2 linked regions of the Homo sapiens genome follow. The protein of the gene in region 1 purifies or fractionates together with the protein of each later gene. This does not show direct contact. Each region holds a gene or a part of one and is shown on either strand. Other genes may lie near its edges. The genes, in order: TSEN2 and GREB1L.

What was found.
Region 2: the proteins of TSEN2 (region 1) and GREB1L purify together in Homo sapiens (affinity purification with mass spectrometry; 2 studies listed by BioGRID and IntAct, with this or other methods). This does not show direct contact.

What each region holds. Positions count from the first base shown.
Region 1 is NC_000003.12:12,486,742-12,503,659, forward strand, and holds part of TSEN2 (tRNA-splicing endonuclease subunit Sen2), read left to right. Parts: intron 1-3,042; 5' UTR 3,043-3,059; coding exon 3,060-3,248; intron 3,249-5,394; coding exon 5,395-5,476; intron 5,477-5,487; exon of another isoform or gene 5,488-7,564; intron 7,565-9,776; coding exon 9,777-9,813; intron 9,814-14,926; coding exon of another isoform or gene 14,927-14,983; intron 14,984-16,520; coding exon 16,521-16,918.
Region 2 is NC_000018.10:21,509,345-21,526,262, forward strand, and holds the end of GREB1L (GREB1-like protein), read left to right. Parts: intron 1-4,476; coding exon 4,477-4,642; intron 4,643-6,072; coding exon 6,073-6,300; intron 6,301-7,268; coding exon 7,269-7,410; intron 7,411-8,689; coding exon 8,690-8,890; coding exon of another isoform or gene 8,891-9,283; exon of another isoform or gene 9,284-10,587; intron 10,588-11,343; coding exon 11,344-11,479; intron 11,480-13,313; coding exon 13,314-13,477; 3' UTR 13,478-16,768; downstream 16,769-16,918. UniProt on the Homo sapiens protein: Plays a major role in early metanephros and genital development.

The sequences.
Region 1 (16,918 bases):
TGGCAACTGGTAATCTGTCTCTATGGATTTGTCTATTCCGGAAACTTTATCTTAATTGTCTCGTGGTCTTTTGTGTCTGACTTCTTTTAGCATAATGCTTTCAGGTGTTGAAGAATGTATCCGAACTTCATTCCTTTTCTATGGCTAAGTATTTGATTATATGGATAGACCACATTTTGTTGATCTGGTCAACTATTGATGGACATTTGGATGGCTTCCACTTTGATGCTATTATGAATAATACTGTTGTGAACATTCACATACAAATTTTTCCATGAACATATGTTTTCATTTCTCTTAGGTCTATACCTAGGGGTGGAGTTGCTGGATCATGTCGTAACTATGTGTTTGACATTTTGAGGAACTGCCAGACTCCTCCAGTCCTGTTCGATTTGAAGATGAAACTGGGCTTAGAGAAAGTGGGTTGTGCAAGGTCACACAATAATAATGGCGGCTTTGCATGTCTGGAAGGCCTACTGCGAGCCAAATTCCTGAGGGGTGTGCAGCCACATGAGCAAGAGTAACACAAGAACTTGGATTATGAGGGGTGTTTTGTCGCAGGGACCCTTCCATCCCACACACCTGGGTTGGAGTACAGAGTTCTTTCGATCAAGTGTCACAGCTAAATCTTGCCTTTTTTAGATGTGACAGCAGTCTGAGAGGGAAAAACGCTGAACAAATGAGGCAGACTAAAATACAACTCTTATTTGTTGAGAGAATTTATTAGAACTTCTTGAAGGTGGCCATTAAATCTTTTTTCATTTTTTTAAAATTCCGAATGTAATGTATATAAGTCAGCTGCTGAGCAGAGGTTATAAAAGTGAAAAATCCCATAAAAGTCCAAACCATTCCTGGAAGTCTTTCAAAAAGTGCCTTACTAGAGACCAACATCCTGCCCCCAAAAAGCAGTGTTTATTTTCAGTTTTAGAATAAATTATTGTCTCTCCAATTGAGTACTAAATGTGATAATTTAGTACTTGGGCTGAGGGATAAGTCAGCAAGCAAGGTAAAGCCTAGTCTAAATATGCTCTTAAGAAAATCTCTTAGGTTTCCTGTGAGCATGCAGTAGACGTGGTTTTGTTATAAACACTATACAGCAAGATGCATGCATAAATATAAAATGTACAAAGTAATGCTCAGTATGTAATTCCTTCAAGGAACCTTATTTAGAAATTAATCTAGCATGTTGCTGCTTAGAACAATGGCAATTCTAGGAAGGTTCCAACTTCCCGATTCTTCTTTTTCATGGTTATCTTTGTAATTGATGTATCATTTCCTCTAACTCCTCTTTAGTCTGTGTTTTTCTGTGTCCTCATATAATTCCTCAGCTTCTTCCTTGAGAAGTTGGATACTGATATCATCACACGTTGGATAAGCCTTTTCTTAATGGTCATGACACTCTTAAAGCCACTCACCTTCCCCTCCCTCAGTTTTGGCCACCTTCTTGACTGTTTCAGGCTTGATGGCATCCCTTGCCAATGGGATGCAAGTACTGAGTGCAGGAGCCACCTAAGTAATTAGTCTTATTTTTTCCCTTGTGAGGATTCGGAGTCATGTAGGTTAAACGTGTGTATGATTTGGCCGCACTGTATCTTCAAGCACCAGGTAAGCTCTCAGTTGAAATCAAGTCTAGACCTAGTACTGGGGGAGCAGCAGATTCAAGTTTCCCATCTCATTCCAGGACAGCTGCTCCTCGAGTGGAATGTCTTGCACCATTTACATTGTTTTCCCATGTATATGGTTACGTTTTCCTAGGTTAAGTGCATCTACTGTATCTCTGTGTCTGCATCACACAATATGTTCACATTTACTTCCCTCCTTTAGACATTAGTGGATAACAGCCAGTTCCGTTAGCTCCAACCTGCTTTCTGTGCTTCCAGCTATGTTATATACTTGTTTTGTCTCCTTGGATCCAATGTATGGCCCCAGAGGGACACGTACTGGCTTTGGCTTTCTGTTCTCCCTCATGGTGCTGGGTGCACAGTGGGTAATTCCGTTACTGCTCAATAACCCTTCACCGTCTGATTTTGAGAAAGAGTCATCAGACAAAAGTAGATAGACCCTGCCTGTGCTTTCAGCAGAATCTAGAGAGAGGGCATGGGCTTGGGAGTTCAACAGACCTGGGTCACCCGATGCCACCACACTCGGGGTCGTCTACAAATCTCTCTAACCTGAATCTGTTTCCTATTTGTAAAATGGTGTTGCTACTGCTCACCCTGTAATACTAATTATAGCTGATACATGAATGGTACACGCTATGTGCCAGGTACTGTTCTAAGCACTTTATGGATCTTAACTGTAAGATAGAGTCGTTCTTATCTTGATTTTGCAGGTGAGGAAACTAAATCACAGAGAGAGTCAGTGACTTTTGCCCAAAATCACACTGCTAGGAAGTGGTAAAGTTGATTCTGATGCTGATAGTCTGGCTTTAGAGTCCCTGCTTGAAGCCAGTAGCATTTGGTAGTATATAATCGACCCTTAAATAACTGCTGCTGTCATTATTATTTATTAATGTACTTTAAAAATTGGGAGCTGATTGACCCAATGTTTAGTGTGTATTGTAAGATCCTCTTGGAAAATGAAGTGCCTGCAAGATTTAATTTGTTGAGGACAGGGTCTCAGTTTTGTCTTTGTCTCCCCAGCACCTATGATTATTAGGAATTCCTGGTAGTAAATGTCTGTTGGGTGAGTGAAATGGAAGCACTCCTGGTAGACAGAAATCCTGTTGTGCTTGCTCTCAGGAGACCTAACATTGCAGCTTTGGGCATGTCACTAGGTCTCAGCGTTGTCAGCTGGAGTAGAAAGATTACCACTCATTTCCTGGGGTTTATTGTGGGGATTAATTGCAGTATTCTAGGTCAATATGATTTACATTGCTCACACAAACTGTTCTTACTGCTTTTAGTTTATTGCTTTATAAATACTCTATTTCTTCCCACAGACCACTAAGTTTTCTGAGCCTAGGTACAGATGTACTCACATTTTGGATCAAGGTAGTTATTGATTGTCTGTTTCTTTCTGTTTGTTGTCTACTCTTTAAAGAATACCTCCTCTGAAAAATGGCAGAAGCAGTTTTCCATGCCCCAAAGAGGAAAAGAAGAGTGTATGAGACTTACGAGTCTCCATTGCCAATCCCTTTTGGTCAGGACCATGGTCCTCTGAAAGAATTCAAGATATTCCGTGCTGAAATGATTAACAACAATGTGATTGTGAGGAATGCGGAGGACATTGAGCAGCTCTATGGGAAAGTAAGTGCAGGCAGCCTTGGTAAGATTACTTTCAGACAACCCTGAGCAAGCAGTCCTTTCCTTCTCCCCATCCCAGCCATACCCCCACACCAACCATGAACAATGTGTATTCTTTCCTTGCGGTTTGGTCCAGTTGTAGGAAAAGTACAATTTGAATTAGTGCCCAAAAGCCATATGTTAGGGTAATAGAATGACAGATGGAGCACCCCTGCCCACAAACCTTTATTTCAGTGATGAAGTAGGTTCAATGGATTGACTATTTTTTTTGTCTTTAGTTGTAAAAGCAATGCATGTTTGTTAAAGGAACAAAAAAAGTAATTTACAGAAATGTAATGGGTAAAAAAGTGAAAATTCCCCACTCACTCCCATCCCGTTCCCAGAGGTAGCCACAGCGTGGCATAGTGTCCCTACTCAGGCACGGATCAGATGGGGCTTTGGCATGGAGCTCCTTATCTGCTGCCTCCTGGTTGGGGACCTCTTCTCAGATGAGGACAAGTTCTAGTTTTTACTGTTTTCCAGCATTGATCAAGTTGAATGAAGACTGGTAGTTCTTTAAAAAAAATTTTCCATAATCTGTTCATTGCTGTGGGCATTTTTAAAAAACAGCTTTATTGAGTTATAATTTACAACTATAAAGTCCTCCCATTGTAAGTATACAATTCAGTGATTGTCATAAATTTATAGAGTTGCACAACTCTCACCACAGTCCAGTTTTAGAACATTCCCATCACCACAGAGTTCCCTTGTGCCCATCACACTTAATCCCTGCTCCCACTCCCGGCCCAAGGCAGCCACGGAATGGCGTCTTGTCTCCATAAATGTGCCTTCTCTAGACACTTGATAGAAGAGTGGGTGGCACTGGCCATGGTGAGGCAGGAGTCTCAGTAGGCCAAGGGCAGCTCACCAGGGAGGCCTTCATTTACAGTATATAACATTAAGCAAGAGGCTTTATAAAGTGCTGTATGCATTATTTATTCTTGGTTTTTGTTGTTGCTGGGTGTTTTTTTTGTTTGTTTTTTGTGACAGAGTCTTACCCTGTCACCCAGACTAGGGTGCAGTGGCATGATCTCAGCTCACTGCAACCTCTACCTCCCAGGTTCAAGTGATTCTACCACCTCAGCCTCCCGAGTAGTTGGGACTACAGGCGCATGCCACCATGCCTGGCTAATTTTTGTATTTTTTGGTAGAGACAGGGTTTCACCATGTTGGCCAGGCTGGTCTTGAACCCCTGACCTCAAGTGATCTGCCCACCTCGGCCTCCCAAAGTGCCGGGATTACAGGTGTGAGCCACCATACCTGGCCTCTTTATTCTGATTGTTAATCTAAATGGAGAAAGGGGTGTTTGTTTTATTCTTTCAATTTTCTGTGTGTTTAAATATTTTGTAATGAAAAGGGGAAAAATACATGTTGTTTTTGGAATCAGCAGGAATGAGAGGAATACTTCAATTCTGGAGTACAAAAGAATCCAAGAGGTTTTTTTGGACCTAGTGGGCAGCATGGCTCCTGCCTTCAGGCACACTGTGTTCCCGAACCATATGTAGAGAAGAAACTCTGCCTCTGCCTGCCCTCGGCTTATCAGACCTAGACTGAAAGCATTAGTTATGGGATAAATGAGGTGTGCTAAAAACTTACTAGTACTCTTGAAGCGATTAGAAAGGTGTTACGCTAAGAACATCCTTAGTCATCATTAGATAATCAGAGGGAAAATGTAAAGACATGAAAAGTGGGGCGAACCTCTTGTTAACTCAGATGGGTACAGTCGGCCCTCCATATCATGGGTTCCACTTCCGTGGATTCACCCAACCTTGGATTGAAGATATTTTGGGAGAAAAATTGCATGTGTACCAAACGGGGACTTTATTTTCTTATATTAAACAATATAACAACTATTTACATAGCATTTGCATTGCATTAGGTATTATAAGTAGCCTAGAGATGACTTAAAGTATATGGGAGGGCCTACGTAGACTATATATAAATACTGCACCATTTTATATCAGGGACTCGACCATCTGCCGATTTTGGTATCCACCAGAGGTCCTGGAACCAGCCCCCTGTGGATACTGAGGGATTACTGTATATTCTACCTCAGCTAAAAAACTGGTAACTAAGCATGAACTAACTTCATTTTCTCTCTTCCTGGAAGGGTTATTTTGGAAAAGGTATTCTTTCAAGAAGCCGTCCAAGCTTCACAATTTCAGATCCTAAACTGGTTGCTAAATGGAAAGGTAAAGTTGTTGTATCATTCAGTTCTTTTGACAAATTAATCATTTTCCTTTGTTTTTGATCTTATATCTCAGGCTATATAGTAAAATTCTAGAGAAGTAACATGTACACTGGCAGTTTTACTGCCAAAGTTAGCTAGAATAATTCTAATCAAAGCAAAAGGGTTATGATTGGGTGACAGTGTGTTTAATTTCTAGAATTATCAAGTGTTAATTGGGCTTTTCTGTTGTTAAGTGTTTGCTTAGCAGAGTACTATGCCTATGGCAGGTACTGGTAGTTAAGTACCTGCTCACCTGTGGCACTATGCAAAATTTTTAAAATTTTGTTTCCAGAATTAGAATTTGTAATAGCCATGACATGTATGTGTGTGGTTCTCCCTTGCTGATTCTCTTTAATTTATAAATGTTTTAGAATATTTATCTAAGGAATTCTCATGGTAATTACTTAAGAACCAATACCAGCATGTTAAAACATAATTAGAAAGGATCTTTTAAAGGTTTTATTGTAAGAAAATATACAGATTAAAACTGCACTGAGATAACATGTCAACAATCAGGCAGAAATCCAAAAGTCTGACAATATACTGCATTGGTGAGGACTTCAGAAACAGACCTTCTCTTGCATTGCTGGTGGGGTGCTTGTGGTACCACCCTCATGGAGGTGAATTTGGCAATGTCTAGCAAAATTACCTATGCATTTACTTTGTTTTCTTTTCCCCCATTCCTCTCTTTCCTCAGTCCCTGGTAACCTTTATATGTTTTCTGTCTATGAATTTACCTATTATAGATATTTCATATATAAATAACAATCATACAATATTTGCCCTTTTGTGTCTGTTGCTTTCACTTAGCATATTTTCGAGGTTTGTCCCTGCCATAGTGTCTATCAGAACTTCATTCCGTTTTATAGTGGAATAATATTCCATTGTTTGGACATAGTGCCTTTAGCTCATCTGCTGATGGACACTTAGATTGTTTCTGTATTTTGGCTTTTCTGAATAATACTGTTGTGAATATTTGCATACACGTATCTGAGTCTATTTTTAGTTGTTTTGGATATATACCCAGGAGTAGAATTAATGGGTCATATGATAATTGTCTGTTTAACATTTTAAGAACTAGCTAAACTATTTTCCACATTGACCGCATCATTGTACATTCCCACCAGCAATGCACCAAAGGTTCCAATTTCTCTACATCCTTGCCAACACTTGTTTAAAAAAATAATAGTCGGCCAGGCGCGGTAGCTCACGCCTGTAATCCCAGCACTTTGGGAGGCCGAGGCGGGCAGATCATGAGGTCAGGAGTTCGAGACTAGCCTGACCAAGATGGTGAAACCCCATCTCTACTAAAAATACAAAAATTAGCCGGGCATGGTGCTGTGCACCTGTAATCCCAGCTACTCAGGAGGCTGAGGCAGGAGAATCACTTGAACCCGAGAGGCAGAGGTTGCAGTGAGCCGAGATTGCACCACTGCACTCCAGCCTGGGCGACAGAGCAAGACTCCGTTTCTAAATAAATAAATAAATAACAGAGCAAGACTCCATTTCTAAATAAATAAATAAAATAAAATAGTCATCCTAATGAGTATTAAATGGTAAAAGTTTTTCATTTTAATGAAGTCCAATTTATCTATTTTTTCTACTATTGCCTGTGCTTTTGGTATCTATTTAAGAAACCGTTGCCAAGTCCAAATCATGCAGATTTCCCTGGTGTTTTCTTTTAAGAGGTTTATAGTTTGAACTCTTAAGTTTAGGTCTTTGGTCCATTTTGTGTTAATTTTCGTATACTGTGTAAAGTAAGGGTCCAGCTTCATTGTTTTGCCTGTGGATATCCAGTTGTCCCAGTATATGCGTTTACTTTTGATCCAGCAATCTCACTTCTAGGAATTTATCTTAACAATACGCTGACAAAAATATGAAAAGAAATAGCACAGGGCTATTCATGCAACACTGTAATATCCAAAGACTGGGAACAACTTACATGTTCATCAGGAGAGGACCTGTGGAATAATCCATATTTATATAATTAATCCATATAATGAAGGACCGTGGAGCTGAGACAGGAATGGGAGATCGCTAGGATATGCTGGTAAGCGAAGACAGCACAGTATAAAGGAAAGTACATGCTGTGCTGTGGTTTATCTAAAAAGATGGAAATATAAAATAGATATTTTATTATATTTTTTGAGACAAGAGTCTCACTCACTCTGTCATCCAGGCTGGAGTACAGTTGTGCAATCTCCGATCTCAGCTCACTGCATCCTCCACTTCCTGGGTTCAAGCGATTCTCCTGCCTCAGCCTCCTGGGTGAGTAGCTGGGATTACAGGTGTATCCCACCATGCCCGGCTAATTTTTGTATTTTTAGTAGAGACAGAGTTTCGCCATGTTGAGCAGGCTGGTCTCAAACTCCTGACCTCAAGTGATCTGCCTGCCTTGGCCTCCCAAAGTGCTGGGATTACAGGCATGAGCCACTACGCCTGACCAATTTTTTTTAAATGGAAGGATAAAGCATAGTTTTTTAAAAATTCCAGTAGGAAGGGATGAAACAGGATGCAGAGAGAGGTGAGACTTTATAGATTTGACTTTGTAACCATATAAATGTATTACATAATTATAAAAAAAGTTTGGCTGGGCATGGTGGCTCACACCTGTAATCCCAGCACTTTGGGAGGCTGAGGCAGGCAGATCACCTGAGGTCAGGAGTTCAAGACCAGCCTGGCCAACATGGCGAAATCCTGTCTCTACCAAAAATACAAAAATGAGCTGGGCATGGTGGCAGGCACTTGTAATCCCAGCTACTTGGGAGGCTGAGGCAGGAGAATCGCTTGAACCCTGGAGGCGGAGGTTGCAGTGAGCCAAAATCGCGCCACTGCATTTCAGCCTGGGTGACATAATGCAACTCCGTCTCCAAAAAAAAAAAAAAAAAAAAAAGTTAAATTTTTACAAGAGATTTTTTTAAACATAGAAATGAAGTAACTGAAGCTTATATCAAGTTGGTTGTATAACCACAGAGTGAGAAATTATTTTGAGTAACTTTTGGTTTTTTTGGAGATAGGGCCTGGAGTGCAGTGGTGCAATCTCAGCTCACTGCAACCTCCACCTCCTGGGCTTATGCCGTCCTCCTACCTCAGCCTCCCGAGTAGCTGGAACTACAGGCACATGCCATCGCAGCTAGCTAATTTTTGTGTTTTTTGTAGAGACAGGGTTTCACCATGTTACCCAGGCTGGTCTTGAACTCCTGAGCTCAGACAATCCACCCGTCTCAGCTTCTGAAAAGTGCTGGGATTACAGGAATGAGCCAGTGAGCCTGGCCATTTGAGTAACTTTATAGTGATTTGATTGTTCAACCTAATCGGATAGACTTTGCATCAGTTACTTCTTGTCACAATAATGCTGCTTAGTAAACCATCCCGAAAGGTATTGGTTTTAAGCAGCAACCATAGTAGTCACTAGGTGTGCAATCTTGGCTGGGTGTGCTCACTTTCCTGTGGGGTTAAAGCTGAACATCATCTCTTCCAAGCATTTAATGCATGCAGACGAGGCTGAGTTTGGGAAAAGAGAAGTAATTAGCCCAAAGGCAGAGTTAGGAAAAGACCAGGACGAAAACCCAGACCACTGGGTGACCTGATAAACATTTCGGTTGGAAAGACTCCTCCCACCTGATGCCCTGCTTATGCCTGGGGTACAGGCAAGTTAACTACAACCAAAACCTAGGGATTCAGAAACAGCAGGAGCCCGCCTGTCAGAACTGCGCCCTCATCAGGCTGGTCTTCAAAATAACTTGAGGTCAAGCCAGTTTGAGATTCTGCACAGGGAGCTAGAGCTGGATCCCTGAACTCCCAAATCCACATCCAAAACCAACACTGCAATCAAGTTCACTTTTCCAGCACTTTTGATATACACATGGAAGGCGCTTTCAGTGAAGAGGGAAGAATGGAGATGAAGTGCATACCTCTAGGGCCTCAGCATTCTCATTTGGAAGTTGGAATGAGCATTCAGCCATGGCAGAGAGGTTTCCTCCTGTGCTGTTGCTGCTTAGCTGGAGCCCTGAGTTGAGAAGAATTCTGAGGTCCCCTCTAAGCCCAGCAAGACCGATGTGATTGATGGGCAGCACCTGCCAAGGGTATGGGTTCAGGGAAGGACGGCATAGAAAGCATATTTTTGCCATTACTGACTGGACAGTAAACTTTCTAGGTGTGTGATTTTGTGAATCTTAAAATTCTCAGTCTTTCCTAGATTTTTAGTGTTTGTTCCCCTTATGGGAAATTTGCCTGAAACTAATAGAACTTCTTTGTTCCAGATATGAAGACAAACATGCCTATCATCACATCAAAGAGGTAAGTCATAATGAACTTTGGCTTCTGTCAAAATGATGGTTTAAGTCAGATGTTTTTAGGTAGTCTTGTCCCATGTAGCAGTCCAGTCCACACCTTTTTTTCTTTCTGTTTTTGGTAGTAGATGTATCCTTGAAAATTATGTTGGAATTTAATGTGGATCAAATCATTTTTGCAATGCCTTACGTGAGTTTATGGTTTGTTTAAATACTGTTTTGCCAGTTGAATTCTTTCCAAATTATGAATAACTATCCTGTAATAGCTATGTTATTAAGTCCTCATATTCTTGGGCCTAGATTTTGAACCAGCCTTCTGCCCGGTGGGCACAGATGGTCCTGTCCCCCTTCCTCCAGCTACACTGTAGGGTCAGAGAAAGAGGCTTTCACAGAGGCCCTTCCTCATTTAATCCTAGACATTCCCGGAACGTTTCTCCCTGACTCCCCAAACACACACATATGGCCTGGCTGATTCCTGCATGTGCTCAATCCTGCTCATGCCTGACCTCTCCTGGGTTTCTTTCCTTACCACCGTCCCCTCCTCTGTCTTGGCTGCTGCTCCTCTGGCCCCCACAGCCCTCTTCGGCGTGCAGCACTTTCCTCATGTGTCATACGTGGGTTTAGACTGTCGGTGCTTGGAGAGCAGAGATCAGGCCCTTCTCCTCTCTGCAGTGCCACACTTTGTGGTCCCTTGGTGAGATTGTTGACTGTCTCCATCCATCCCAGACCTCCTTGTCCCTGTGATACAGTACAGCTCTTCCATGAAACCTTATAAAACTTCTCAGGTCCCCAGTGATTTTGTTCATCTTGCTTCTGGCATATACGTGCAAAATCTGGCAGCTCCTTTTTGGTTACATGCTTGGCAACCCCATAGCCAGCGGGGTGGCAAGGAGTGGTGGCACCAGGGAGATCTCAATGGCTGTTCCAGCTGTAACCTCAGGTTGGGGTCAGGAGTGGGATTCTGGTGTGTGGGAGGGACCTGCTAAGAACCTGTCAGAGCCCTCAGCCTTGGAGGAGCTATAGTGCAGACAGGTTGCCACAGCAGAAACCTAGGGATCAGAAATAGCAGCAGCTCGCCCATCAGAACTGCATCCTGGCTAGGCTGGCCACAACATGACATAAGGTCAAGCCAGCCTGCCAGCGTAGAGGTTCTGCACAGGGAGAGGGCTACCTCCCTGAAGAGCATCTCTTTAGGAGCACTACAGTATCCCAAGAAGTTTCATTGACCCTTGTATTCATTTCCTAGGGCTGCCATAACAAAGTACCACAGACTCAATGGCTTAAAACAACAGAAATTTATTGTCATGGTTTTGGACACCAGAATTCCAAACTCAAGGTGTCAGCAGGGCCACAGTCCCTCGGAAGGCTCTGGGGGAGCATCCTTCCTTGCCTGCCTTCACTGCTGGCTCCTGGCACCCCTTGGCATTCCTTGGCTTGCAGATGCATCACTCTAATCTCTGCCTCTGTGGTCATGTGGCATTCTCCCTTGTGTGTTTCTGTGTGTCTTTGTCCAAATTTTCCTCTTTTTTTTTTTTGCATTAAAAAAATTGATACATAATAGATGTATGTATTTTCGGGGTATGGGTACATGTGATATTTTGCCTCTTTTAAGGACACCAGTCACTATGTCCTTAGATCAAATTGATTCCATCTGCAAAGACCCTGTTTCCAGATAAAGTCATATTCGCAGGTACTGGGGTGCGTAATCTGGGAGGTGTATGTTGTCCTACTATTCCTTAGTCAAGGCCCCGCAGTTACAGAGTTGCACTGAGAAGTGAAAGCGATAAACTATTCACTAATAAGCAGGCCTGGCATGAACTCAATCTGCATTCAGATATATCTCTCTTCCTTCCTCAGCGCTCTTGATATACTTTATTGTGTTATCACCTTAGTTGATTTTTTCCTTCAATTCTCCTCTAGTCTAACTGCCAGATTCTCATTTTTTAATCCCTTTGCCATACTTTGATCACTTTCATAGACTTCATGAATCCTGCATCTTTTTTGCAAGATTTAAATGTTCAATTTGCCGTCAATTTGCATTGAATTTACATTAACATAACAAAGGACAAAGTGACATAAACGACACATAGTGACAGTGCAGGAATGTTGCTTGAAGGGGGTATGCTTGTGGGGATTAATTTTTTATAAGAAATTTTCAGATTACAGCTCATTTCCCCGTGTGAACCTAAGGATGTTTAAAGATGTTACCAGCACAGTTCTATCAGCAAGCTACATACGTCCCCCAACCAAAACCAATACTTGATTTATTATTTGTTCACAACACTTGGAATCACAATCTAAATTTTGCTAAATATAAGAAAAATTGATGCATGTTCATATTTTTAGATTAATTTTTCAACTTAAATACTTGTCATAATAGTTGTTCGTATTTTTTGTAGAGACAGGGTGTCGCTCTTGCCCAGGCTGGTCTTGGGCTCCTGGGCTCAAGTGATCCTCCCACCTCAGCCTCCCAAAGCACCAGGATTACAGGTGTGAGCCACTGCACCTGGCCATAATTGTTTCTTTTCTGATGCCTCTGAAATTCTGATTTTTATTTCAAGTCGATTCACTCAAATTGGCCTTTTTCCAATAATAGTCGTCCTTGGATAAAGTTACGCACCTTCTGCGTAACTCTTTCTGAAGGTAAGTGTCAGGACCCTTCTGTGATGCCTTTGGGGAACTGACACAAGTAGGGGTATGTCCCTGAAGGACCAGCCCTGATGGTCGTGCTGGTTGCCCACCCCGTTGTCCTTTATTCAGCCAGAATTCACTATGTGTCAGGCATTGGGTAGGTGCTGGGGACCCAAGAGCGAGGAAAAGACCTAGTCCCTGTTCTTGAAGGATTTACAGTCTAGTGAGAGAGGAAGAGAAGTGAACAGTTGTGCTGTCCTGTAGTAGTCGGTGTTGTGATAGAGATACCATCACCATTATAGCCAACAGGTGCTGACTGCTCTGGCAGTGCCATTCCCAGTCTCTGAGCTTGCCTGCATTACCTCCTTTCATCTTCTCAAGAAACCTTCGAGGGTAGGTACTAGAGATGTTTCTGTTTCGTAGATGGGGACTCAGGGGAGGCTTCAGTAGCTTGCCCAAGATTACGTGGGCTCAGCGCCAGAGCCTGGGAGACATTGATATGGGTGTGCACACCAGCACTCCCTGAGCACCTTCCAGTGCTAAGTATCGTGCCAGTGATGGGCCTGTGTGTCATCTCAGGTCCTCACATCACTGCCATGAGGTGGGTCCTGTTCTTATCCATCTTCCACAATTGGAAGAACTGAACACAGGGAAGTGAAGCTCCTTGCTCAGGGTCAGTATGTGGACTTAGGCACTGTGGCCCCAGAACCTATGTGCGCTAACCACTCTAAACCACTCTGCTGTGCACTTCCAGTGATAAAGGGGCATTCATCAGTACAACAATAGGGAACGGTGCCCTGTGCAAATGGGAGAGGTGTGTGTTCAAGGGTGCAGAAACATGAGAAGCCTTGGCGTGTTCTGATGGGCACGTCCTGTGTCCTTGCGGTCCTGGATGGTGCTGCTTTCCCCAGTCCTGTCACTGCTTCCAGTCGTGGCTGCTGCCTCATCCTTCTGCCACGCTCCCCCTTAACACTTTCTGCATTTTACTTCTCATTTCTCTTCCTGCAACTGCTCCAGCATCTGGGATTGATGGCAACAGGACTTGGCTTTTTAAGGTGTTGCCAGCCAGCTAGAGGACGCCTTCAGCTCTGACCCATGTGTCGTTGTCTTAGTCATTTGTTTGTGTGGCTCTTTTCATCATATCTGACTTGGAGGCTTTCTTCTACATGCTCTTCGAGCCTCAGTCTCCTTTGACTTTTCATAGCGATCCTCTGAGACCCTGAAAAGGGAACACAGGTATGGCCTGGTTCTGGTATGTGACAGAAGGCACAGAGGTAGAAGTGCTAAGTGGCTTAGCTCAGAGCCACACGGAAGAGCCAACTCCAGGACCTAGACCTCCAGAGGCTGCGTTCATCCCTGCACTGCTGCCTCTGCTCTCAACAGCAAATTAAGACATTTCCATTCATTAACATCTTTTTCAAGATACCATATATTGAGTCTGATTTATTTTTCAAGCCACTCCTAAAAACTCCACAATGATATAGTAGTATTGATTGAACACTTCTTATGGGCTATGCACTTTACGTGTCTTATTTAATTCTTGCTGCAACCCCAGGAGGTAGGTGCAGTTATCCCTGGTTTGTAGATGGTCACTGAGCCTTAGAGAGGTGGGGTCATATAGCTGGTATGAGAACGTGATGGAGCAAGGATTGGAACCCACGTCTGCTTTGACTGCTCTGCTGCAAAGAGCAGAGCAGTGCCCTCTGTGTGCTCACTTCACTCCAGATCTTCTGGTCAAAGGAGGAACTATTGACCCTTTAAATCAGTGGTTCTGTCACGTGTTTTGAGTCACGGAATTTGGCAAAAGTTTTGGGTCCCTTCCCCAGAAAAATATATTGTCACAAAAATTTGTGTTCAAATAAAGGAAATTTATAGACCCTGTAGAGCCAATGCTTATGTTGATATGAAGAGCTAAGATTCTTTTTAGACCCCTCACATGAAAGTTCTTTTAAACGTATGCATAGGTGGCCATGTTCCAGGTGAGAAGACACCCTGCAGGTTGTGGCACAGCTATGTTCTTTTTGCTGGTTTTAAAAGTAATACATAACAAGATCCCTTTGAGGTGGTAGTACTCATCTCCACATTTTATAGGTGGGAAAATTGAAGCACGGAGAAGTTAAGTAATTTGCATTGCCACACAGTTATAAGTAACAGGGCTGGACACAAAATGTGCCATACCAAAGTCACGGTGCCGTACTGACTCTCAGGTATTAGGGTAGCCTTACCAGGTGTTAATCTTTAGGATACAATTCCCAGTATATAGGGAGGCATCCCTGATGTTCATCCTCATGTGGGGTGAACAGGGTATAGACAGCTTTGGGATTCTTAGGAATCAGGGTTAAGCAACCACTAGTCTCTTTTTAGGTACAGCAGAAGCCAATGTCCTTGTTGAACTGTGTGAGATATAGCAGTTTGTAAACTATGACATATTCAGTCTTTTTTTTTTTCTTTTGGAACATTTCACAAATTTGCGTGTCATCTTTGCACAGGGGCCATTCTAAGTATATGTGCTGCCGCATCGAGCACTGTTCAGTCTTCTTAACCAGGTAAAAGAAGGTGAAAAGTAAAGTTACATCTGCCTTCTCACAAGCCACGTGTTGTCTTGGATGCCTTTCAGACTAATCACTGAAGGTCGAGGCAAAAAGCACTTGAGTTTCACAATGTCTTTGACCTTCTGATCAGATTTCCAACATCTGGTAGTTCTCACATCACATGAACACATCCCAACAGCCTAGGCATGAATGCTTTGCCCTATTGTTTTGCCTATAATTTTTTGTAACTTGGGAAGTGTTTTGTAACTTGGGTGTTAGCTTCAAGTTTTAGAAACTTAACAAGAATTTTATCAATAAAATCTACTCTGCAAAGTATTGTGAGGAAAAGGGCCATTTCTGTTAGAATATGTGGATGAATCTACATAAGCCAAATCATTTCTCTCCTTATCCTGTGAAAGGGTTAGTAGGCACTGTGATGAATATTTATTGAAATTCTCATTTTGCTTTCCAATGCTAAACAAGTTATTTGTATTATGAATGGCATATCTATCTGAAAACATTATGAGATCCAAAATTGAAAATAATACAAAACAAGCTGAGAGCGGTGGCTTACACCTGTAATCCCAGCACTTTGGGAGGCCAAGGCGGTCGGATCTCTTGAGGTCAGGAGTTCAAGACCAGCCTGGCCAAAAATTTGTGTTCAAAAATACAAAAAATTAGCTGGGGGTGGTGACGCAAGCCTGTCATCCTAGCTACTCGGGAGGCTGAGGCAGAAGAATCGCTTGAACCCGGGAGGCAGAGGTTACAGTGAGCCGAAATCGTGCCACTGCACTCCAGCCTGGGTGACAGAGCAAGACTCCATCTCAAAAAATAACAACAATAATACAAAAAAAAAATCTTGATAAAGGATGGCCATTTTCTTGTTTATTTACCTAAATCACTTAATCTATCAGTTTTAAATTAGATAAATTTTCATAGTTTGTTAAACTGGGGGTTAGTTTTTTTTGTTTTTTTTTTTGTTTTTTTTTTTTCAAATAAAGCAAATAAAATGAAACTATATTGTAAAAGCAAAGAAACAAGAAGTAACATATGCTTGTTGCAGAACACTTAGAAAATGCAGAGGCCACACGCGGTGGCTCACACCTGTAATCCCAGCACTTTGGGAGGCCAAGGCGGGCGGATCGTGAGGTCAGGAGATCGAGACCATCCTGGCCAATATAGTGAAACCCCATCTCTACTAAAAATACAAAAATTAGCCAGGTGTGTTAGCAGATGCCTATAGTCCCAGCTACTTGGAGGCTGAGGCACAAGAATTGCTTGAACCCAGGAGGTGGAGGTTGCAGTGAACCAAGATCACACCACTGCACTCCAGCCTGGCAACAGAGCAAGACTCCATCTCAAAAAAATAAAAAAAGAAAGAAAAGAAAATGCAGAAAAGTATAAAGAAGAAAAATATTTATCTATAATGCACCATTCAATAATACTGCTGTAAACATTTTGGTGTGTCACCTTCCAGTCTGTTTTATGTGCTTTGTTGTTTTTTCAATTTTGAAATTCGAGTGCTGTTTCTAACAGTATTTCTGTCTTGCAGGTATCAGCATAGTGTTGAGTGGGCAGCAGAGCTGATGCGTAGACAGGGGCAGGATGAGAGTACAGTGCGCAGAATCCTCAAGGATTACACGAAACCGCTTGAGCATCCTCCTGTGAAAAGGAATGAAGAGGCTCAAGTGCATGACAAGCTTAACTCTGGAATGGTTTCCAACATGGAAGGCACAGCAGGGGGAGAGAGACCTTCTGTGGTAAACGGGGACTCTGGAAAGTCAGGTGGTGTGGGTGATCCCCGTGAGCCATTAGGCTGCCTGCAGGAGGGCTCTGGCTGCCACCCAACAACAGAGAGCTTTGAGAAAAGCGTGCGAGAGGATGCCTCACCTCTGCCCCATGTCTGTTGCTGCAAACAAGATGCTCTCATCCTCCAGCGTGGCCTTCATC
Region 2 (16,918 bases), on another chromosome or scaffold:
TGCTTGTTCCCATTTTAAAGGGAAGTAATAACACCCAGCCTAGAGCTGGACTGGAGGGCAGATAAGACCTGAGTAGTTTTCTTGAACCCACGTGTTTCTTCTCTCCAGGGTCTCCTCTTTCTCCACTGTCTCCCAACCTAGCCTCTGCCTCTCCCTTCCTTCTTAGGTCTCTCCCATTTCTTGTTCCTTTCTATGCCTTTTCATGTCCTTCAACTTCAAACAGCCTTAATATGGGCTTAAAATATTTTCAAAAATGGTTTTGTTTTGAATATAATTGTTTATCACTTTATATCAAGTGAATTAAGGCTTCTGAATATTTCTGTTCCTTCAGCCTCCCCAAAACCACCTATACTCATACTAACTGAAGCCTTTTTCTATATGAATATGACCTTCTTCTGTGCCTGCCTGATCCTTAGGAGAAAGTTTTCTCATCCTAGATCTGACCAAACTATTTAGTACTAGTTTTGCCATTTTTGCAATAATTTGGGGAGAATGAAGCCAACACACATATGCAAATGAAATATACAAATTATTATTTTTATTTTTGGTAAAAATCACATAACATAAAATTTACTGCCATGGCCGGGTGCGGTAGCTTACGCCTGTAATCCCAGCACTTTGGGAGGCTGAGGTGGGTGGATCATCTGAGGTCAGGAGTTTTGAGACCAGCCTGGCCAACATGGTGAAACCCCATCTCTACTAAAAATACAAAAAAAAAAATTAGCTGGGTGTGGTGGTGTGCGCCTGTAATACCAGCTACTCAGGAGTCTGAGGCAGGAGAATCACTTGAACCCGGGAGCTGGTGGCGGCAGTGAGCCAAGATCATGCCACTGCACACCAGCCTGCGTGACAACAGTGAAACTGTCTCCAAAAAAAAAAAAAAAAAGTACTGCTTTAATACTTCTAAAGTGTTAAAGTTCAGAAGTGTTAAGTACATTCACATTGTTTTAAGACTGATTTCCAGAACTCTTTTCACCTTGTGAAACAGAAACTCTATACCCATTAAACAACTCCCCATTCCCTCCCTCCCCTCAGCGTCTGGCAGCCACCATTCTACTTTCTCTAAGTGCCTCATATCAGTGGAATGATACAGTATTTGTCCTTTAGTGACTGACTGGCTTATCTCACTTAGCATGTCCTCAAGGTTCATCCATGTTGTAGCATGTGTTAGAATTCCTTTCCTTCTTAAAGGCTGAATAATATTCCATTTTATGTATCTACTACATTTTGTTTATCCATTCATCCGTCAGTGGACACTTGGGCTGCTCCCACCTTATGGCTGTTGTGCATCATGCTTTTATGAACACAGGTATACAAATATCTCAGACCCTTATTTCAACTCTTCTGGGTATGTATCTAGAAGCGAGATTGCTAGATCATGTGGCAATTCTATTTTTAACTTTCTGAAGAATCACCATACTGTTTTCCATAGTGGCTTGCACCATTTTACCTTCCCACCAACAGTGCACAGGGATTCTAATTTCTTCACATCCTCACCAACACTTTTTTTTTTTGAGGTGTTTTGCATTGTGATTTTGTTTTGCATTCCCCTAATGATTAGTAATATTGAACATCTTTTTGTGTGCTTGTTAGCCATCTGTATATCTTCTTTGAAGACTTGTCTCCAAAGTCCTTTGTTGAAAAATCAACTGAATTATTTTGTTGTTGTTGAGTTGTAGCAGTTTTTAAAAAATATATTCTGGGTATTAATGCCTTATCAGATACACTCTTGGTAAAGATTTTCTCCCGGCCGGGTACAGTGGCTCACACCTGTAATCCCAGCACTCTGGGAGGCCGAGGCGGGCAGATCACCTGAAATAGGAAGTTCAAGATCAGCCTGACCAACCCCGTCTCTACTAAAAATACAAAATTAGCCTGGCATGGTGGCACTTGCCTGTAATTCCAGCTACTCAAGAGGCTGAGGCAGGAGAATCACTTGAACCGGGGAGGTGGAGGTTGCGGTAAGCTGAGATCGTACCGCTGCACTCCAGCCTGGGCAACAAGAGTGAAACTCCGTCTCAAAAAAAAAAAAATTTTTCTCCCATTCCATGGATTGCCTTTTACTCTATTATTTGATGAAGTCCAGTTTGTCTATTTTTTCTTAGCTTTTGTTTTTGATATCATATGTAAGAGATCACTGCCAAATTCAATGTCACAAGGCCTTCCCCTATGTTTTCTCCTAAATGATTTATAGTTTTAGCTTTTATGTCTAGGTCTTTGATCCATTTTGAGTTAATTTTTGTGTAGGGTCTAAGGTAAGGGTCCAACTTCATTCTTTTGCATGTGACTATCAGGTTTTCCCAGCACCATTTTTCTTTAAGACAGGGTCTTGCTCTGTCACCCAAGCTAGAGTGTGCAGTGGTACGACCATAGCTCACTGTAGCCTCCAAGTTCTGAGCTCAAGCAATCCTCCCACCTCAGCCTCCTGAGTGGCTAGGACTATAGGCGTATGCCACCATGCCTAGCTAATTTTTAAATTTTTTGTAGAGACATGGGTCTGTGTTGCTCAGGCTGCTCTCAAACTGCTGGCCTCAAGTGATCCTCCTACCTCAGTCTCCCAAAAATGCTGAGATTACAGGTGTGAGACATCGTGCCCAGCCCCCAACTGTGTTTGTTGACAAGACCATCTGTTACCCACTGAATGGCTTTGGCACCCTTGTCAAAAATCATTTGACCATATATGAGAGGGTTTATTTCTGGGCTTTCTATAGGCCCAGATCAAAACTACCACACTGTTTTCATTACTATAGCTTTGTAGTAAGTTCTGAAATCAGGAAGTGTGAGATCTCTAACTTTGCCTCTCTTTCAAGATTGTTTTGGCTATTTGGGGTCCCCTGAGATACTGGATGAATCGCAGGATAGATTTTTCTATTTCTGCAAAGTCTTTGGGATTTTGATAGGGACTGCATTAAGGCTATGGATCACTTTGGGTAGCACTGATATCTAATATCAAGTCTTCCAATCCATAAACACAGGATGTCTTTCCATTTATTGGTGTCTTCCTTAATTTCCTTCATCAATGCTTTGTACTTTTCACTGTACAAGTCTTTTGCCTCCTTAGTTGATTCCTAAGTCTTTCTTTTTGATGCTATTGTAAATGGAACTCTTGATTTCCTTTAGATTGTTCACAGTTGAGGTATAGAAATGCAACTGATTTTGGTGTTGATTTTGCATCTGCATCTTTGCTGGATTCACATATTCATTCTAAAGGGGATTTTTGGTGGAATTTTTAGTTTTCTATGTATATGTTGCCTGAGAACAGAGATAATTTTACTTCCTTCCTCTTTGGTTGCCTTTTATTTATTTATTTTTTCCTTAATTTCTCTGGCCGTGACTTCCAGTATTATGTTAAATAGAAATGGTAAAAGTGGCATCCTTGTCTTGTTCATGATCTCAGTTTTGGAAAAGCTTTCAGTCTTTCACCATTGACTATGATGATGTTAGCTGTGGGCTTTTCATATATGGCCTTTATTATGTTGAGAATGCAAACTATTACACACACGTTCTTGGAAGGTAGATTTTCCTAAATCCCAGTTTTACCCTTGATCTGTTCACACTGCTTCTGGTTCTTCCATAGATTTAATAGCTTTTCTTTCATTTATCACCTACGTTTTGTTTCATTTTACGATGGCCCACTCATAAAATTTGGCTGATTACTGACTATCATCTTGATAATCACTAACATTCACCGAGTACTTAGAGGGTACTAGGCGCTATCCTGAGCATCATACAGCAACCCTATGAGATCGGCATTATTATTGTCTTCTTAGAGGTGGGGAAGCCAAGGCACAATGGGTTTAATTTGTTCAGGGTCACATGGCTAGAAAGTGGTGGAATTAGGATTCAAAATCAGACAGTTTGGCTCCTGTCTCTTCTCTTAATCTCTATACCATATTGCCTCTTGCAAAAGGCAGATCTAGGGAAAGGGTGCCAGTTTCCAGAGTTGTCTTCTTCAAAGAAGCTGCCGTCAGTTTCCTTGAAGTATCTAAAGCAGGGGACATATCAGTGGAATTGGCATACCCACTCACTGCAGCCCAGTTAACTCCCTAGTACAGGACATGTGAGTGGCTGCTTCCAAGTCTGAGAGAGCCTCTTGTCATGCTTCAAGGAAGTAAACAGTAACAGCATTTCCTAGATGTGGATTCCTTTGTCCTGTGAGGGAAACTGGATTCTTGCAATACTTTCAAAGTGTGGTTCATACCATTTGCATCCTCAAAGATATCTCTGGTTTCTGGCCCTTACACCATACCGACTCAAATGCAGCTCTAGTAATGGACTCTTAAGAATCTACATTTAAAAGTGATTCCCAGTAACACTGGTTTGAGAGCCACTGCTCTGAACATTTGGTTGGCTCCCACCTGCATGGTTCCCATGTGAACAGGCATTCTGTGGAGAGAATATAGCTGCCTGTGGGGCTTCAGCCAAGCCTGAGTGAAGGATGTGTGGATATGCAGATGTGGTTATGTTGCCTTCCAGGTGCTGCCAGGTTCCTCATCAAGGAGCTATCATATCACAACCTAGAATTGGAGAGAAACCGCCTGGAGGAGCTAGGCATTAAACGCCAGTGTGTCTGGCCTTTCATCGTCATGATGGATGACTCATGTGTCCTATGGAACATTCACAGTGTTCAGGAGCCATCCAGGTAGACTTCCAAGCTGGGGGCGTATGACACAATGCTATAGACAGGACAATACATTTCTTGACTACAGTTACATACGGAAGTAAGAAAGAGAGAGACAGCTTTCCAGAGCAAAACAGTCAACCATGAGACCACCCTCACTAGAACATTTTGTGGTGACTTAGGAATCTTTTATTTAGACATTCAGTAGCCCATTAAATTCCTGGACCATTCTGGGATCACAGCGTTGGTTAGCTATTAAAGTCTACTGCGGCCAGGCACAGTGGCTCATGCCTGTAATTCCAGCACTTTGAGAGGCCAAGGCGGGCTGATCATTTAAGGCCAGGAGTTCTAGACCAGCCTGGCCAACATGGTGAAATCCTGTCTGCTAAAAATACAAAAATTAGCTGAGCGTGGTGGCGCATGCCTGCAGTCCCAGCTACTTGAGAGGCTGAGGCAAGAGAATCACTTGAACCCAAGAGGCAGATGTTGCAGTGAGCTGAGATTGTGCCACTGCACTCCAACCTGGGTGACAGAGCGAGACTCTGTCTCAAAAAAACAAAAATAAAGTCTGTTGAGACACTATGATTTATGGAGAAAGACTGCTGACATCTCAAATCAGGAGACCTGGTTTTAGCCCCAACTCTGTTTTTTGTTTATAATTTTTTGTAGAGATGTTGCCCAGTCTGGTGTTGAACTCCTGGGCTCAAGCAGTCCTCCTGCCTTGGCCTCCCAAAGTGTTGGGATTACCAAGTGTGAGCCACCACACGCAGTCATGCTTCTTAACTGTCTGTATGAAAAAGGAAAGTCATCTCACCTCTCCATATCTCAAGTCCATCACCTGTAAAATTACGCCTGGGCCAAAATCAGTGGTTCTCTTCCTGGGGTAGTGCCCCCTCACATTGCTAGGGGGTGCTGGTCGGGGCATCTGTGAGGACCAGAGAATGCCAAACATTTTAAGAAGTCCGACACAATAAACCCCCAAAATTCAATAGCACTCCCATTGCAACACTGTGCCAGCTGACCTTTAAGCCCCTCCCAGCTCAAACACTGTGATTTTGTGTCCTTGTTCCTATTTTGGATTTGAAGCCAGTGAAATTTTCAAATATTCCTTATTATACACAATTACCAGAACTGGGAAGGATACCTCTATGCTTCCAACCTCCGGCTACCTCTTCTTTGGCAACTCTTTATTCACTGTTCACTCTGACACAGGCCGGATTTCTTTCTTTGCCCGAAAGTGATAAGCCCCACCCCAAAAGGCAGTTTCTTTATAATAGTGACAGGCAGTGTGAAAACTGGGCTTGACATTCTTCTCCATTTGCTAATACGAAGTAAATCAGTTAATTTTATCCTTGAGAGTATTACTGGTATATAGTAGTGTGTAGACACTTCACAAATGATCCTCTCTTCTGTAATATTTATCAACATCTTATATAAACTATATTTCATAGCCAGCCCATGGAAGTAGGAGTTTCCAGTAAGAATGTGTCCTTGAAGACTGTCTTGCAGCACATTGAAGCCACACCAAAAATTGTCCACTATGCAATCTTGGGCATACAGAAATGGAGCAGCAAGCTGACTTCTCAGAGCCTAAAGGCCCCATTCTCTAGGTGTCACGTGCATGATTTCATTCTCCTCAACACAGACTTGACTCAGAATGTGCAGTATGACTTCAACAGGTAAGTCAGGCCTCATGGATGCAGGTAATCCTGGCATCTACTGATTGCTTCTGCCCAGCTCTAGCCTCTGTAATGCTTTTATTCGTATGTCTTCAGTTGAGAAGCTGACTCTTTATGTGGGCAAGGAGAAAGGGGGATCACAAGCCCCAAAGTGTGCCCCTTTATCAGCAAACTGACCTAGACCTTAACAGGGGTTACAATGTGAAATGCTTAGAGAAAACACTTTAGCCATCTCATTATTCAACAAGAACTCAAGACACAAAAACTACTGACTCAAGTCAGTGTGTGGACCCACAAACATCTAAGATTAAGCCTCCTTCACCCTCCAGACTCAGAAGGAAATCACTTTTCCTGAATGTTAGACTAAGCCCTCCTTCACCCTCCAGACTCAGAAGGAAATCAATTTTCCTGAATGTTAGTAGGATTCAGGGAAATCCTACTGTAGGGAAAAGGCAGCAGATGGGGATGAGCAGGGTAGCCATGGCCTTGCCTCCCAAATAAATTATGTCCAGGTTCCTACAAAACCTGAGAGGGCCAAGCAAGAAGGCAGGAACCATAAAGTCCTTATGCCAAACTTACGGTTATAGAATAGCTGCTGCTTTCACTCCTGTTTTAAATTTGACAGAGGCTTCATCCTGCTTGTAGCCAGAAATTTAAAACTGGGAGCACCTCTGCATTCCTGTTTTGCCGGAGTGTATCAAATAGGAATATAGTCCTGTTTTTGCATAGGGATACCTAAAACCTGTGACATAGCTGGGACAAAAATAATCTCACTTTCCCCTTCCTTGAAAGGCTGTAATGCCCAAATCAGAGTTTTTCCAGGTCAGTGTTACGAGGGCCAGCTCCACAAAAGCATGGTTGATTATTTTAGGCTCCTAATATCTTGCCACACATTTATTTCTCTGTGTATAGTTATCATGGTTGAGATATGCCAGCGGAAGAAAACTATTGTTGTGGTTACAATTTAGGTATTTCTGTGAAGATGCTGACTTTAATCTGAGAACAAACAGTAGTGGCCTGCTCATCTGCCGCTTTAATAACTTCAGTCTCATGAAGAAACATGTTCAGGTTGGAGGGCAAAGGGACTTTATCATTAAACCAAAGATCATGGTGAGTACCGCAAGCTTGATTCAAGTGCTGAAAATAAGCACAATGATAATGACTATCTTTGTTATTAGATGTTGGCATTAAGCACTTTCTATTTTATTAGAAAAGTGAAATAACACAAGGGAGTTTTTTTTTTTTTTTTTTGAGACAGTCTGTCCCCTAGGCTGGATGGAGAGCAGTGGCGTGATCACGGCTCACTGCAAGCTCTGCCTCCTGGGTTCAAGCGATTCTTGTACCTCAGCCTCCCAAGTAGCTGGGATTAGAGGTCCGTGCCACCACGCTTGGATAATTTTTATATTTTTAGTAGAGATGGGGTTTCACCATGTTGGCCAGGCTGGTCTTGAACTCCTGACCTCAAGTGATCCACCCGCCTTGGCCTCCCAAAGTGCTGGGATTACAGGCATGAGCCACCGCATCCGGCCATTAGGGAGTTCTTAATGTCAAATTTTCAATCTCATTTCTGTTACTGAGACTCATCTAGAGCCAAAACATTTGTTTTGACAATCCAACAAAATTACTTTAGATGTCAGCCTTAAATCTAAGTTTCTTTGGATTTAAGCCTTAACACATCCTTCAAGGCTTTAGTTTCAAGATGGCAAACTTTACATTTTTACCTTCTTTTTTTGAGACAGAGTCTCGCTCTGTTGCCCAGGCTGGACTGCAGTGGCATGATCCCAGCTCGCTGCAACCTCTGCCTCCCGGGTTCAAGCGATTCTCCTGCCTCAGCCACCACGCACCACCACATTTTTACATTCTTTATGTAATACATGAGAGAAATATAAATCAAGATGCCAGTCTGATCCTTTGCTAGAAGTTTCTTAAAAGATAGTAATAAAGATCAAAACCTGTATTACTACCCTTTTCTAAGAAATCTACTGAATGTAGTAATTCACAGCATGGGGGCTACCAGTGGAGCTTAGAAACCTCTTTGCCATTTTTTTGGTGGGGTTGTGGGGTAGAGTTAGGATGAGATAGGATTTAACCCACACACACTGTAAAAGGCTTCCGATTGGATCTCACAGTGTACCTGTTAAATGTGGTAACTTTCAGAGAAGCCTGCTTTCTTCTGCCCTCGCTGTGTGTAACTTACATTAAATCCTATTTTACTATTCCCAAGAGAAAAAAATTTTCAGGACCCTTTACTAACATACATTTGAACCTAGCACCCCTCACTGTGCTACTGCTATTATTTGGCGACTGTTAGGATACACTTCAGTGTTTCCTCACCTGTTTAATCCAGTGACAGACAAGTTTCCCATGATCATCTCGCCTCTGATTTCAGGTGTCAGAGAGCTTAGCACCCATCTTGCCCCTTCAATACATCTGTGCTCCCGACAGTGAACACACACTACTGGCAGCCCCTGCACAGTTTCTCCTGGAGAAATTCCTTCAGCACGCCTCATATAAACTCTTCCCCAAAGCCATCCATAACTTCAGGAGTCCTGTGCTGGCCATTGACTGCTACCTTAACATTGGACCAGAGGTAAAAAGGGTGTGGGGGATACTGTGCTTACCTACATCCATCCATTTCTTTCTCATTTTAGCTGTTTACAAAAAAGGAGCCTGTGACATGAAATATCAATCAAGATGCCAGTCTGGTCCTTTGCCAGAACTTTTATTAAAGATAGTAATACAGATCAAAACTTGTATTTCTACCCTTTTGCATACTCACTTATGCAAAGGTTCACACAACATGCAATGGCAGTTTGCCCTCCCCATGCCTATTTTATCTCCACAAATGAGCCAGAGAATATACAACTCAGCTGTCAGCTCCTCTAAGAAGCCTACCTCGGTGACTTTGGGCAGCAGTTGCTTGTTCCCACTTCTCTTAACATTCATCAGATTATACTGTAATTATGTGGGTTTTTCTTCATAAAAGTGTGAGTTCTTCAAAGACATACAATGTCTTAGGCATTGTTTTAGACATACGTAAGAGGAGCTCAGTGATTACCGAACAAATAAATGTGTATCACCTGAAGCCTTTAGAGGTGGCATTTCTCCACTTCCCACCCCTTGGACTTCTTTCTAAAATTTTTCACATTTTAGTTTTTTTTAAACTGCCACTTGCACCTCCAGGCTCCTACTACTAAGCTGTCCCTTTAGAAATGATTACTGTACTACATCCTCCTTGTAAAAAATGTTTTAAAATCATAAGAAAGTAAAGTCACCTGCCAGAAGAATATTTTGGTGTACTACATTTCCTTCCAGGGCTTTTTCTTTGTATGTATTGAAAAAAACACACATATCCATACACGTACTCTTTTAACGCTAAAGTCACTGTATTCAGTTTTGGAAACTAATTTTTAAAATTTCACAGTGTAAACATTTTACATTCCCATTTTTATGTTTCAGTAATCTACACTGTAGATTGGGTAATGAATTATAGAATTTTAGAAGTAGAAGGAACCTTAAAAACCATCAGATATAAAGGCCAGGCATAGAAGCTCGTGCCTATAACCCAGCATTTTGGGAGGCTGAGGTGGGAGGATCACTTGAGGCCAGGAGTTCGAGACCAGCCTGGACAACATGGTAACACCCTGTCACTACAAAAAATAAAAATAATTAGCCAGGTGTGATGGCGCACGCCTGTAGTCCCAGCTATTCAAAAGGCTGAGGTGGGAAGATCACGTGACCCCAGGAGTTCAAGGTTGCAGTGATCTGATTTGTGCCACTGCATTACAGCCTAAGTGACAGAGACCCCATCTCAAAAAAAACAAAACAAACCCACACCCACGAGATCTAATAACATCTTTTACAGTATTTATGTAAGTACTGTAAAAGATGTATGTAATTTACATGTCTGACCCAGATATTCCAATTCCCCTATCCTAGAGTCCAGGGCTCTACGTATTAACACAATCTCAATACTTAACAACAGCTAACATTTACTGAATACTAAGTTATTTAATTCAGAAAACATCCTATGAAACAAGTACTATTGTTATCTCTACAGATGAGGAAACTGAGGTATAGTGAAATGAAGGAGACTGTTCATTGTTCCATGGCTACTAAATGGAGGAACCAGTATTTGAACCCAAGCAGACTGGCTCATGCATTTAGCCATTCCACTGTTTTAACTCCCAACTATCTTACTTACTTCTCCGTAATTTTTGCAGTTATCATCTGTTCACAGAAGCCAGATAGAACCAAAAATTTAAATTCATGCACTGTCTTTTTTTTTTTTTTGAGATGGAGTTTCACTCTTGTCACCCTGGCTGGAGTGCAATGGTGCAATCTCGGCTCAGTGCAACCTCGGCTCAGTGCAACCTCCACCTCCAGGGTTCAAGCGATTCTCCTGCCTCCGTCTCCTGAGTAGCTGGGATTACAGGTGCACACCATCACGCCTGGCTAATTTTTTTTGTATTTTTTACTAGAGATGGAATTTTGCCACGTTGGCCAGACTGCTCTCCAACTCCTGACCTCAGATGATCCATCCACCTCGGCCTCTCAAAGGGCTGGGATTACAGGCGTGAGCCACCGCACCCAGCCCATGCACTGTCTTAAGCTTCTATCCAATTGAAAATTTAAGTATATCTAAATGGAAAGCTGATCAAAAATATTTTTTATTCTCACCAATAAGGCAATCCAAACATTTAATCTTTCCTAAGTATGCTTTTTTGTGGAAGGTAGTTTTTTAAATTTGATAAAGACTCTTAAATGGAAGGGCTTGTTTCTTACTACTAATTTGTCTCCTAATAGTCCTTTATTATGAAACATAAATAAGAGAAGCTTTAAACAGGTTAACACTTGGCACGCTACATAAAGGAGGCTGCAAAGCTTAACTAACCAAGCCATTTAAGTTAATATTGGAAAAAACTCATCTCCTTTACCTTATCCTGAAATAGAGAAAAAGGAAGGTACTGAGTCATTCTGCTGAACTGCAGATATTTTGCTTGCTCTTGAAATGCCCATGCTATTTTTGCTTGATGATTTCAGGTGGCCATATGCTATATCAGCTCCAGACCCCACTCCAGCAATGTCAACTGTGAAGGGGTGTTTTTCAGTGGACTCCTTTTGTACCTCTGTGACTCTTTTGTAGGTGCTGATCTTAAGAAATTTAAATTTCTAAAAGGTAAGTCAAATTTAGTATCTTGCTTGTAATTGCTATTGGTTCCCACTGAGCAAAATACAGAAGATAAAGATATTTTTAAAAAGCACTTGAGGCCAGGCGCAGTGGCTCAACGCCTGTAATCTCAGCACTTTGGGAGGCCGAGGCGGGTGGATCACGAGGTCAGGAGATCGAGACCATCCTGGCTAGCATGGTGAAACCGTCTCTACTAAAAAATACAACAAAAATTAGCCAGGCATGGTGGTGTGCACCTGTAGTCCCAGCTACTGGGGAGGCTGAGGCAGGAGAATGGCGTGAACCTGGGAGGCGGAGCTTGTAGTGAGCTGAGATCACGCCACTGCACTCCAGCCTGGGCAACAGAGCAAGACTCCGTCTCAAAAAAAAAGTAAATAAATAAATACAAAATCAGCCGGGCGTGGTGGCTCCTGTAATCCCAGCTACTCGGGAGGCTGAGGCGGGAGAATCGCTTAAACCCGGAAGGCAGAGGTTGCAGTGAGCCAAGATCACGCCATTGCACTCCAGCCTGGGCAACAACAGTGAAACTCCATCTCAAAAAAAAAAAAAAGAGAGACTGGCCTAAGAACAAACTAAGATTAAACATCACAGATAATCCTTATAAAATGACCTTTGAGATCAGTGAAGAAAGTGAGGTTCAGAACGCTGTGCAGCATGAGAACAGGGAGAGGGGTTGTGCGGGGACTGTGCATTCATTCATTCACTTATTTATTTATTTATTTATTTAGAGACTTATTGGGGATGGGGGAGTGGTAGATTTTGCCTCCCAGGAGACAGAGACACTTCTGATTGTCGCACTGGAGGCTGCTGCTTGCTGGCATATAGTGGGCAGAAGCCAAGACTGCAGGATGTTTAGATTCCAAACATCCTACAAGACACAGAACAAGGCTAGGTGTGATGGCTCACGCCTGTAATCCCAGCACTTTGGGAGGCCAAGGTGGGTGGATTGGCTGAGCTCAGGAGTTTGAGACCAGCCTGGGCAACACTGTGAAACTCCGTCTCTACTAAAATACAAAAAATTAGCTGGGAGTGGTGGCGTGCACCTGTAGTCCCAGCCACCTGGGAGGCTGAGACAGGAGAATTGCTTGAACCCAGGAGGCGGAGGTTGCAGTGAGCCAAGATTGCACTACTGCACTCCAGCCTGGGCAACAGAGGAAGACTCCGTCTCCAAAAAAAAAAAAGGTAAGACACAGAATAGCCCCCACAACAAAGAATTATCCAAGTCCAATAGTGCTGAGGTTCAGAAACCCTAATCTAGGAGGAACACATGAGAAACATAACATTAGTTATCACAGGGAAGAGGGAATGTGGTTGGAAGATTACTTACTTTATACTCTTAAAAATTACTGAATTTGGGCTGGGCGCAGTGGCTCACACCTGTAATCCCAGCACCTTGGAAGGCCGAGGCAGGTGGATCACGAGGTCAGGAGATCGAGACCATCCTGGCCAACATGATGAAACCCCATCTCTACTAAAATACAAAAAAAAATTAGCTGGGCCTGGTGGCAGACACCTGTAGTCTCAGCTACTTGGGAGGCTAACGCAGGGGAATTGCTTGAACCCAGGAGGCAGAGGTTGCAGTGAACCGAGATCGCACCACTGCACTCCAGCCTGGAGACAGAGCAAGACTCCGTCTCAAAAAAAGAAACAAAAAAAATTACTGAATTTGCAAAACTACTTAATAAAATAAAACAATTCTGATAGATTGCTTATCCATCTGTTGGTTCTCAGATGTGTTAGCTTAGGAAATATAATCAGAGATAAAGTTCTTTATAAATTCAATCCCTGAGCCTAGGACATATTTCTGTCTTTTTTCCTGAAGGTGCTACACTGTGTGTCATCTGCCAAGACAGAAGTTCCTTGCGCCAAACAATTGTCCGCTTAGAGCTAGAAGATGAGTGGCAGTTCCGCCTCCGGGACGAGTTTCAAACTGCTAACAGCAGTGATGACAAGCCTCTCTACTTTCTTACTGGACGTCATGTATGAGCTTTTGAAGAGACCAAAACAGCAAAAAGATGCCTAGGTGGGATGGGACAGAAACAATTTGGGATTTTTCTTTTTCCTTTAAAGTACAATCACTGTGGAGCAAAGTGCAACATATTTGTCTAAATTCTCCAAAGAACTCCCCAAATCTGATCCAGGTCTTTGGGGACATCACTTTCCTTCAGTTCCAATTACAGGACCCTTAAATTCAGGTAAACTCTATCCTAGGCAGTTATGCAATTACTTAAGATACGGTCTGCCCATGGGATCCTGAGGAGGATATACTTTGGAGAGTGAATATGGAGTTTGCATTATTTTTTTCTATTACTATGTTAGGGGGAAACTGACTGTCAGGATTAACTAGCCTGAATGTGTTACATGAGACTCATGCCATTGGTGTGGAATCAATTGAAGATTAACGTTTGAGGCCTGAACCCTCAGTTTCTCTTCAGATCTGTACTTTGGTACAGTATTACTCAGGGGTTTGAAATGATAGAATGTAGACGATATTTGTATTTAAAAAAAGAAGTAGCTTTGTCTTTCTCTGTGCAGTGTTAGTTTAAGATTTATAATCTTCTATGTATTGAAACTTTTGGCAAAATTTCCACAGGAGTTAGAAGTTTACTATTTAAACTGAACAAACAAATCAGTAAATGCAGAGCAGGCATTGTGTGCATTTATGCATCTTCTCCTAGCCTAATTCCTTTGCTTTACCCACTCTTTAAATGTGTTTCCAGTCTTTAAGAATATCTTATCTATGAGACTATGGAACAGTGATTAATCTTTTGCAAGAACTTAAGTCAGTTAAGAAGCTTTCAGCAGGTAACCTGCACCCACCGTTTGGTTGGAATTAAGCAGTTGGCACCAGCAAACCTAAATGTCAGGCTGAGGTTCTGTTGCAGAGTGAAACTAGTTTGTTTCCTTTCAGGGACTCAAGCAAAGCTTCCTTTAAAAGATGCACTAAATATTACCACCTTACACTGACAACGCCACAGAAATTGCCGAATTGGGAAATTGAGCCATAGAAAGAGAAATGTTTTTTTACTTAATCTTACCAGTGACTCTTGTGAGGAGTAAGGAAGACTCCATTAAGAGTCTTTTTGATTCATTAAAATCAGCAGGGGGTGTTTGTCCAGTATCGGCAATGGGAGGCATATGTTTCTACAGATTTCTCAAATATTTTAATCAAAAACATTATTTTTAGAAAGTGTTCTAGATAAAACTAAGTCTTAGAAGTTTACTCTTAAATTACTCCAGTTCTCATCATTGAACAATCTCTTGAGAGTTTTCTCATTAGCCCATATTTACTACTTTATCCCCACTTAAAATGGCCATTTTTACTTGAATCAATCTTGTTTGTGACCTGAAACTACTGAGGGGCCTACTAAGCCTGCATTTACTTAGAACAAATAGTGTTAATTGACCAGCTTTATTATCTTATGACAACAAGGAGTTTACAAAGCTAGTGAAAAAATGGAATGTATTAGACTAAAAATGGTTTGCAGATCTCTTGGTTTTAATATAGCTACTTATAATGCTTTAACTGTATTTTGAAGTGAACAATTCCTTTTAACCCCATTTTTAATTGTCCTTCAAAGAGGACCTGCCTTATATATGCTTTAAAAAATACTCCTTAATTTTAGTACAGCAGAATTTTTGGTAAAGAGGTATGTTTTGAAGCAATTTGGTTTAAATATGAATGTATTTCACTTGTTCCTGTTTTGTTGAAAGGGCCTAATGCAAATAATACCAAGAAACCCACTGTCTGTGCAATATTCCAATAACATTTACATAGGGCAAATAAAATACTTGAAAGAATTCTGAAACAATTGTACCTGGGGTGGATGGCCTCTCAGGGTTTCTTCTGGCTTTATGACTTCATAGTTTAAAGAACTTTTTTTTTAAGTAGTTACATCAGATGCAGGTACTCCATTAGTTAGGGCTGCACTCTGAAAATTCAAATTATTATTATGAGCTCTTAAATACTATTTAACTCTGGAAGAGATATGCCAGAATAAAGCCAAAAGACCATCACCCCTATAATGGAGAAATTGATCTGCCTATTCTTTTCAAAGCCTATCTTACTAATGTTTGGATCTTTTAAAATCATCTTATCATCAGTATAATTCTTGAGTATGTTAGGTCCTTCTTTAAGGATAAAATTGCACAAGCACAGGACACCATGATTTGTGTGTATATATATATATATCCTAGTGTGTTCAGCTTTAAGCTTTGCAATCCCTTAGGACACTGATGTGGGATGAATGGATTCGCTAGGCCCACACAGTAACTCACCTGTAGACCTGCTGAACCTCAGCATGTATGACAGTTCACACAGGTTAATACTGAATGTAAACGAAAAACTAGAAGACAATTGTTATAATTTTTTTTGGCTGTAATTTATGCAATTGCTTTTTGTGATTTTTAGAAAATGGGGCACCCGTGTTATTACTGTAAAATGTTCTTAACCAAAATTTGGTGAATTTCACTAGTCTACCTCACATTTTGTTAATGATTCAAAATTGTCTTGTGTCTACTGTTATATTTTTGTCCTTTGATTTAATTTGCTTAATGTATTAAAGTTATCTCCCACCCCCTCCAAAAAGTTATTTTTTCTTTATAGTTTTCTGGCATGTTTGTTAAGAAAACAAGCTCCCTGACTCTGGCAATGTCCTAAAAAGGCTGGAAGTCAGTCACATTATAGGTTGGACAACCAAGATTAAAGAGGTGTTGAAAACATACATAGTAGATACCAATCTTTTATTTGACAGATTGCAACTACACTCACTTTGATGTCCTTCTGGAAACAGAACAACTTTGGGTTGCTAAAACTAATACAAGGTGTTTGTTATTGTTAATCTCCAGTTAAAACTTCTCAAACTTTTTGAGAGTGTCTCAAAGTTGCTAGAACTATGTAGTATGAAGATGCTGTTATTGTAGTATGAATTATATCTTCTTAAAAAATTTTACCAACTTTTGAGAATAACAACTTTGTTGTCCCAGAAAAATGGCTTTCAATCTATTAATAAAGTGTAGTAAATTAAAAGAATTTGACATAGATTCCATGAAAACAATCTTCTAGGCCAAAGGACCCTCAGGAAGGGCAATAAATATTTGTAAGTGTAATGACAGACTTTCAGAGGAAAGTAAAGACTACTGGTGTTCCACTATACATTCCAAAGCAGCTGCCTTGAAAAGACTATTAATTAACTGTGAAACTGACTGCTGCAACATCACACTAAACTACTTAGGCCTGAAACAACATCCAGAGAACGAACATTTATCAAGCTTCTCTTTAGACACAGAAACTGGAAATTGGCCCTTAAAGCTTCCTCTGAGTCTAGGAGAATACTACTCTAACACTGAAACCTTGGCTTCACTGAAAACAAAACAACAACAGTAAAAATACTGCTAAAGATGACTTTAGGAATTGCCGCTAAGGCC